Homo sapiens: one gene and its partner. The protein of the gene in region 2 interacts with the protein of the main gene of each other region in a biochemical or structural test. Each region holds a gene or a part of one and is shown on either strand. Other genes may lie near its edges. The genes, in order: RASSF6 and STXBP4.

Evidence for each region.
Region 1: the proteins of STXBP4 (region 2) and RASSF6 interact in a test that uses a peptide from one of them, tested with the Homo sapiens proteins (one large-scale study listed by IntAct).

The regions. Positions count from the first base shown.
Region 1 is NC_000004.12:73,575,238-73,579,067, forward strand, and holds part of RASSF6 (ras association domain-containing protein 6), read right to left. Parts: intron 1,495-3,830; coding exon 1,376-1,494; intron 1,271-1,375; coding exon 1,173-1,270; intron 1,096-1,172; coding exon of another isoform or gene 1,074-1,095; coding exon 998-1,073; 3' UTR 1-997.
Region 2 is NC_000017.11:54,996,061-54,999,890, reverse strand, and holds part of STXBP4 (syntaxin-binding protein 4), read right to left. Parts: intron 547-3,830; coding exon 440-546; intron 266-439; coding exon of another isoform or gene 260-265; coding exon 49-259; intron 1-48. UniProt on the Homo sapiens protein: Plays a role in the translocation of transport vesicles from the cytoplasm to the plasma membrane. Inhibits the translocation of SLC2A4 from intracellular vesicles to the plasma membrane by STX4A binding and preventing the interaction between STX4A and VAMP2.

The DNA of each region.
Region 1 (3,830 bases), on a different chromosome or scaffold from region 2:
TTTTAATACAGAATTTATAAATAAAATCATAGTTTATACTTATAGCATTTCTTCATTTTTAGTGTTTTTTTTTCAAGTGGGTTAAACAGATCTGTGAGTACCTTGAGAGTTGTCATGTAGAATAAGATGCTAAGAGGGCAGAGTTTGGGATTCCCTATGTAACTTCAGCTACAACAGCCTTGCTTTATCCATTGTATTCATTCAGCAACAAATAGGTATTTGTGGGCCAAGTCTTACTTTAGCCGATGTAATATGTCTATGTGATATAAACATTTTTTTGAAAAATAAATAAAGAAAAAGTTCAATTAACTTAAAAAAGAGCTTAAGAAAAGCTTTGAACTGATGAAAGGTCTTTCATCAGCAGAAGAGAGAGAATAAAAGGGCTGGGGGGAGGTTCAGAAAATTTCAATTAGGATTTCTTAACAGAGTCCATAATTTTTCCTTTCCAAAGGCCAGACAGCTCTGATGTTACAGATAGTCAGAAGTCAACAGGCCATTTAAGATAGTCCTAGATTTTATGAAAATGCCAGAGTTTTCAAGAAGCTACTGTCACTATCAGGTAGATTCCTTGATGGTGTAAGACTGTATTTCTTTTTCATTCCAAGAACTGGCAGCTTCTTTTTTCTGAGTCATTTCTGAATCCATTGATTATGTTTCAGTTCTCTTGAGAGTCCAAGCTAAATGAAGTTTAAACTGCTTATCTGAAGACACCATTTAAATTTGAGTTCATTACATGGTTTACTATAAAAGCTATTTGGCATATGCAGTATTCAAGCTTATTTCAGTTACTGAAACTAAACTCAAACTCATTTTGTCCAACTGTGAACCCTAATTAACCTCATCACTTCAAAAAGAAATGAGCTTTTTTTGACATTCAATTTTCTACGATTCAAGTCTCATATATGTTCGTATAAATGCAAGTACAGAACTTATGCATTCATCAAAGAGTAATATCTCTGAGTTTTTTGAAATGTTTTAGCAATAGAAGCTTGTACTGCTAAACTGTTGTCTCTGTTTTTATTACTAGTTTATTTTGAAGACATTTCAGTATAATCGCCTTTTCTTTATTGAATCTGAAAATGAGAAGAAGAAAGACTATTAAAAATTGGACATATTTTGTGCATTGGACATATTAAAGAACGGAGTATCCAATGTGCATGCTCTTGACTTACTTTGTTACTATTCTTTGAATCTCTCTTTTCTCTTCTTCATTTAATCTTTGAAGAATGGATTCCAAGAGAGAAAAGTGAAAGTTAATGTACTGAGCCACCTAAGAAAGAAGAAGAAGAAAAAAAAAAGAAAGCAGAACAATTATGCAAGAGGTGCTGAGTCAGGAGGGAAGCAAAAAACAGATTCAGGGTGATGGTATTCATACATCACTGCTAATTTCTTCTGCATCTTTATCCATGAGGAAAATGCGAGCATTCTTTTCAGAAGGTCCCTGTAGGAGCCTCTGCAGTAGCGGAATGTCTGTCTTCTTTAGTCGTCTTTGTTCTGCAGTGAAAACAAGAATCAACCACAATCAGAAGTTCATGCTGCAGGAAAAGAAGGAAGATAATTTTCCAATTTATTTTTCGTATTTAACTCACTTTGAAAAAAATAACACCTGCAACAGGAGGCAATTACTCAAAAAAGCAAATTGAAATTAAAACTTAAATGAACTTCTTTCTCTTACTGTATCTCAAGTTTTGATTAATGTCTCAAAGAACTCAGCCTTCCTTTGATTAGAGTGTTCAAACAAATCTCCGGTCTGATAGGCCTTTTATAAAGCAATATGCCTCAATAATTATTTAGGTTTCATTCCACCATTCCTTCATCCATACAACAAATATTTATTGGTTCTTTCCAAGTTGAGTTGATGTAATTCCATCTTTCTGGTTCTTCAGGTCCAAAACCATGTAATTATTTTCAATTCTTCCTTTGTCTCGCTCCACACCCAATTCTTGGCTCATCTTTAAAAATATATTCATGAGGTTTTTGAGATCAATAATATTCTTATTATTCATTCATCTGGGCTTAATCCATTCAGCCATGAAAATGAGATAGAGAAAGAAAATATCTTCCAATCTGGTGTGTTTCCAGAACTTCAAATTTCCAAAAGTTATAATATAAATACTCCTGCTACAAAAGTACTTATAGCTTTCTGTCAAAGTAGTTTCACATCTGGGATTTCATTTTTATCAGAATAAAGCATGAACAAAACATAGTGTCCTTATATTCATCTTATTTCCTCATTCTCTCCTTCACCTTGCTTACTTTCTTCAGAACAGTGAGAACTGTTCTCATTCCCTGAGCTGGACTTATCCCAGGAAAAGAGTCAAGAGAGAGTCTAGAACTCAAAAGCCCAGCCTCCCCACAATTAAAGTGATATTACCCATTCCTGTTCACATAGTGTCAGTGTTTACTGTTCTAATTCCTCTGCCATTTCTGAAGCAGTTGGGAGCCTTGACAACTTAGCTCCTCTCATCCACCCACCAGAATCCTCTTTTGACCTTCAGGTCCAATGTTAACTTGGCTTAGCATCCTCTTGCTTCATGATTCTGCTTTATGGGATGATTATTAAAAATAATGATTAAAAAATTATGATGATGATTATTAAAAATGCATATTCCTAGAGTTGTCCCCTGATCTGGAAGGACTTGGGAATCTGTATTTTAAGTGAACTCTATAGGTAATCTGAAATGAACTACAGTGTGAGATACACTGTAATGGGCTTTGTAGATATAAAGTTAAAACCCACCTATCTCTGTTTTCCAGATTACTGCCCAAACAGGAGCCATATGCTCTCTTCTGACCTAGTTATTATTATCTGCAGTTATGGATATATGCAAAATTTTGACACAAAATATAAAAGAAAATGGGATTTTTATAGGTGAAATTATAAAGAACTACATTTTTTATAATGAAAATAGACATTTTTTTCTTATAAAAACAACACGCTTGTTCGTTCATAGGTCCAGCACCTTGTGTGGAGCCCAAGAATGACTGGAAGGAAACTAAGCCATATTTCTGCTCAACTGCAGGCTAAAGTTAGAGGTGTGAGGAAAGAACGAGGTGCATGTGAATGGAATCCAAGTCTTGGAGAACACCAAAGAGGGAATTTTCAAATCTTGTACAACCTAGCTGTTCAAGTTATCACACAATCATTTAAGACTTCTTAATAAAACTGCTTTTTTTAAACTTAAAAAAAAATTCCCTTCCCCAAACATGCATGCTATTGTAATTGGAACAAACGAGAAAAGTATAAAGCAGGAAGTAAAGCACAACTGGAATTTCCAAGCCCTGAGATACTCTGCATTACCCTTTGAGTGTCCCCCTCACACAACTCATAATACATAAAGGTAATCATATCGTGCTTGCTATTTTTATTGTACACACCTTTAAACAAATCATTTTTTCTCTTTTTTTTTTTTTTAGACGGAGTGCAATGGCACGATCTCAGCTCACTGCAACCTCCGCCTCCTGAGTTCAAGCGATTCTCCTGTCTCAGCTTCCTGAGTAGCTGGGATTACAGGTGTGCGCCACCACACCTGGCTAATTTTTTTGGTATTTTTAGTAAAGACGGGGTTTCACCATAGTGGTCAGGCTGGTCTCAAACTCATGACCTCAAATGATCCGCCCACCTCGGCCTGCCAAAGTGCTGGGATTACAGGCATGAGCCACCGTGCCTGACACCCCCCTTCTCATCCTCTCATCTGCATTTCCCCAATCCCCCACCAGGTAATCTATCTCAATGGTTTTGTATTTATCACTCCATACCTTTCTCCCTAGTCATAAGACCATATATACCACATACTTAAATGGGAGCTTGTAACTGTTTAAAAAATGGG
Region 2 (3,830 bases):
GAATTTATGGAGTGCATATATAGAGAAATTTAAGATTACCTGACTTACCTCACAAGAAGATAAAATGTCATTATTTGTTTTGGGAGTGGATGAGGTCTTTGGGATTAGTATTTCAGGAGGAGAAGAAAAAAGACTTAATGTTGAGGCTTGAGGTCCATATTCTCCTGAAGCTTCTATAAGTGATGTACATGACAGATTTTCTGGCTGAATGTTGTCGGATTTTTGTCTTATGAATGCTATCTCCCAAGCAGATTCTAACCTAGTACTAAAAAGAAATCACTTTATGGATATGCTATGAATATAGTACAACTGAAATCCAAGATAATGTTTCAGATGTTATTAAAAAATACTTATTATAAAGTACTTAATACATCTTAAATTACTGCTTTCAAGGAGACATTCTAAATGACTCATTCTATCTCATGGATAGTATAGTTACCTCAACTTGGCTCCGGTAATTATGCTTTTTGCTTCTTCAAATGATACACCAATCATAGATTCCTTGTTGACTGAGACAAGTTGATCTCCTGGCTTCAAACGACCATCCTAACAAAAACAGTAACATTTATAAAGGAACTAATGAGGTATTTAAAAAAAAATTAATTGATGTAATTAAAGCAATGAAAAGTTTTCGTGAAGAATGCCTTCAAAAAGAGTAAAAAGTAAAATCTTAGACAACCTCAGTAGCAAAATCTCTTGATTAAAGTCTGGTTTGGTAACATATATTATGAGTAAAATGGAATGGTTCATGTATTGCATGAATAAATTTACGTGGTAAAGAATTCTTAATATGGTAGGTAGGACATAGGCCAGTATACCAGGAAAAGGGACCTGTTTTAAAAACTGAGCACTATGGGGCTGATAAAGCTCTGACTCTGTGATAAAGTGGGCCAAATAACTGTGGGATATTTCACAATACAAAACTCATTTATTTTATTTTCTCTGCATTCCTACATATGTCCTCCCACCAAACTGTTCAATGTGTGTGTGGATTTATCCCACATTGAGATTTTTAAAACTTTAGTCAAGGGTTTTTAAAAAAAAAAAATTAAATTTTCAAAATTTTTTGTAGAGATGAGGTCTCATTACATTGCCCAGGCTGGTCTCAAACTCCTGGGCTCAAGCAATCTTCCCACCTTGGCCTCCCAAAGTGCTCGGATTACAGGTGTGAGCCACTGCGCCTGGCCAAGGATTTTAATTATATTGATCCTACCCATATTTCAGCATAATCTTTTTTACTATACCTGCTATCCCCCTATGATTAAGGCCTAGTTGGCTGTGCATATATTGTTAGCCATATCCTGCTAATAATGACAATTCTAACTGGCTGCCTGGTGTTGCCTTTGCTAAGGCCTGGCTTGCTCACAGCTAGCCTAACTGAGTAAGACAGAGCATATCAGGAACAAGAGTTAATGTGGTTGTTAGATATGTTAGATAAGTTTCCCAGTTTTTGTCTTTTCTTTTCATTCAAACTAGAAAATAAAAATAAGCTTTCTTCTTTTACAGTTCCTAAGGTATTTCCCTATTTATCATTAATTAGTACAGTGGTAGAAACCATTATTTTTATAACTACAGAAAAAGCTTATATGGTTAAAAAGGGAGATTTTCACCTTGATGGTACTTAAGTAACTTCCACAAATTCAAGAAAACATCTTTCTTTAAAGTCTTATCTACTAAAATATATCCCTTGGATACTGATCTTTGATCTAAGCTGTATTATTTGTAATAATGGTGATTCACAGTTATTTTACTCCTAAATAACAACAGGTATTATTATTTTTTAAAAAGACATGAAGTACTATCTCTTTCACTGACTAAAGAATATATAGGAAAACAACAAAATTGACATAAAACATTCATGAAAGGATTTTATAGAAACATATCTCAAATAGTGTGTAAAAGATTATATAATCTAGATGCATAATGACCCTATCCTACTGAAATGTAAACATTATTTAAAATACTTAAGCCAAAAGAGTCAACTTAATTTTTAAAAATATATAAGCCAGGCACGGTGGCTCACATCTGTACACCCAACACTTTGAGAGGCTGAGGCAGAAAGATTGCTTGAGCCCAGGAGTTCAAGACCAGCCTGGGCAACATAGTTAGACCCCATCTTTCAAAAAAAAAAAAAAAAAATAGCTGGCACATGTCTGTAGTCTCAGTTACTCAGGAGGCTAAAGTGGGAGGATCACTTGAGCCCAGGAGGTCAAGGTCATGACTACGCCACTGCTCTCCAGCCTGGGCAATGAAGCAAAAATCTGTCTCAAAAAAAATATATATATATATAAAATATATAAAATATATATATATTTATATTATATAATATATATATTTATATTATATATATTTATGTTATATATATAATTTAAAAAAAATTTTTGATTTTATGTAAATATGTGATTAAACATAGTTAGCAAAGTCAGACAACATAACATGCAGTGTTAGTACAGAAAAAAAGTTCACATGAAGGCAATTTAGCCCATCTTGTATTAAAGTACACTGATGTATAGAAGCTGCATTTTCTGGCAGGAAGGGAGTCAGAAAAGAGAAGAAGAAGAATGCCTTCTGACTATGACTTCTGGTGTTTACATATTTTTTCTTTCTAAAAAGTATTCATAGCAGTTAGTTTTTTTCTTTGCCTCCTAGAATAAGATCTTAGCTGATCATGTGAATTTCTGAACCTGTTTAAAAGTCAGAACCTGCAAATGAAAACAAAGCTATTTTTGTAAGTCTGGCATTCGAGTGCATTCTGCCCCAGATGGATTAATGTATATGTGAAGATACTAACTTCAGAGATATGTTGAGACCTCTTCCACACAGTCTAGATTCCAATTCAGCAGTTACAGAGCAACTACCTGACATGGGAGGCAATGTGCCAAGCACTTTCATATGCTGAACTTCAGATCTGAATTCTTTCACATTGACATTCATGTAGATGTTGAAATAATAATATATTCCTGACCACATAAACACTTCTGTTAAAAACGACCAGTACTATTCATTTCTATATTGACTTTGGTATATAGTTTTCTAAATAATACATTTCAATATTATGAGAAACCATCTATACAGCCTAATTCTGACTTAACTAACTCATTATACCTAATACTAAGGAATAGTCCTTCTGTAAGCCTTAAGATTCCTTTCCTGTACTTTTACAAGATGTAGACTGATGGTGACCTTCTTTTAACTCCAGTTATTACTGTGAACTGAGGCAAGTTGTTCAGCTTTTATGAACCTCTATTTTCTTAGCTGTAGAATGGGGATAAATATATGTAACACAAGGTTGCTATAAGAATTAAGTAACATATGTAAATTATAGCACATTATACGTGTTAAATAAGATGAAGTGAATGAGACTTCCATATCTGTTGTGGACAATTTTCATACTGATAGCAAATTTAATTATATTACTCATTAGATTGAGAACCTTTGATGGCTGCCAACTGGTAGGAAAAGTTGAAACTCCTCAACATCCCAAACCCAGCACAACAAATTTACTGCAACTTACTTTTTCTAGCTTCATCATCCACCTTCCACACCAGCATATTCTTCATTCTACTCTCAGAGAATGTGCCTCAAACCAGCCATGGTCTTTTGAACCTCAATGTTTTCACACATATGAATTCCCATCTAGAATGCCACCATCCACCCTGCCACTTCTCTGCAATAAACTCTGACTTAAACTTCACAGCCCAATTCAAACACTATCTCTGCTGGAAGTTTTCTCTAGTTGCCCAGGATTTACTTAATCGTTGTGTCTTTTTGCTCAAAAAGCACTTTTACTTACCTAAAGGATTGCACTTACTCTGTATGGTCCTTATGTT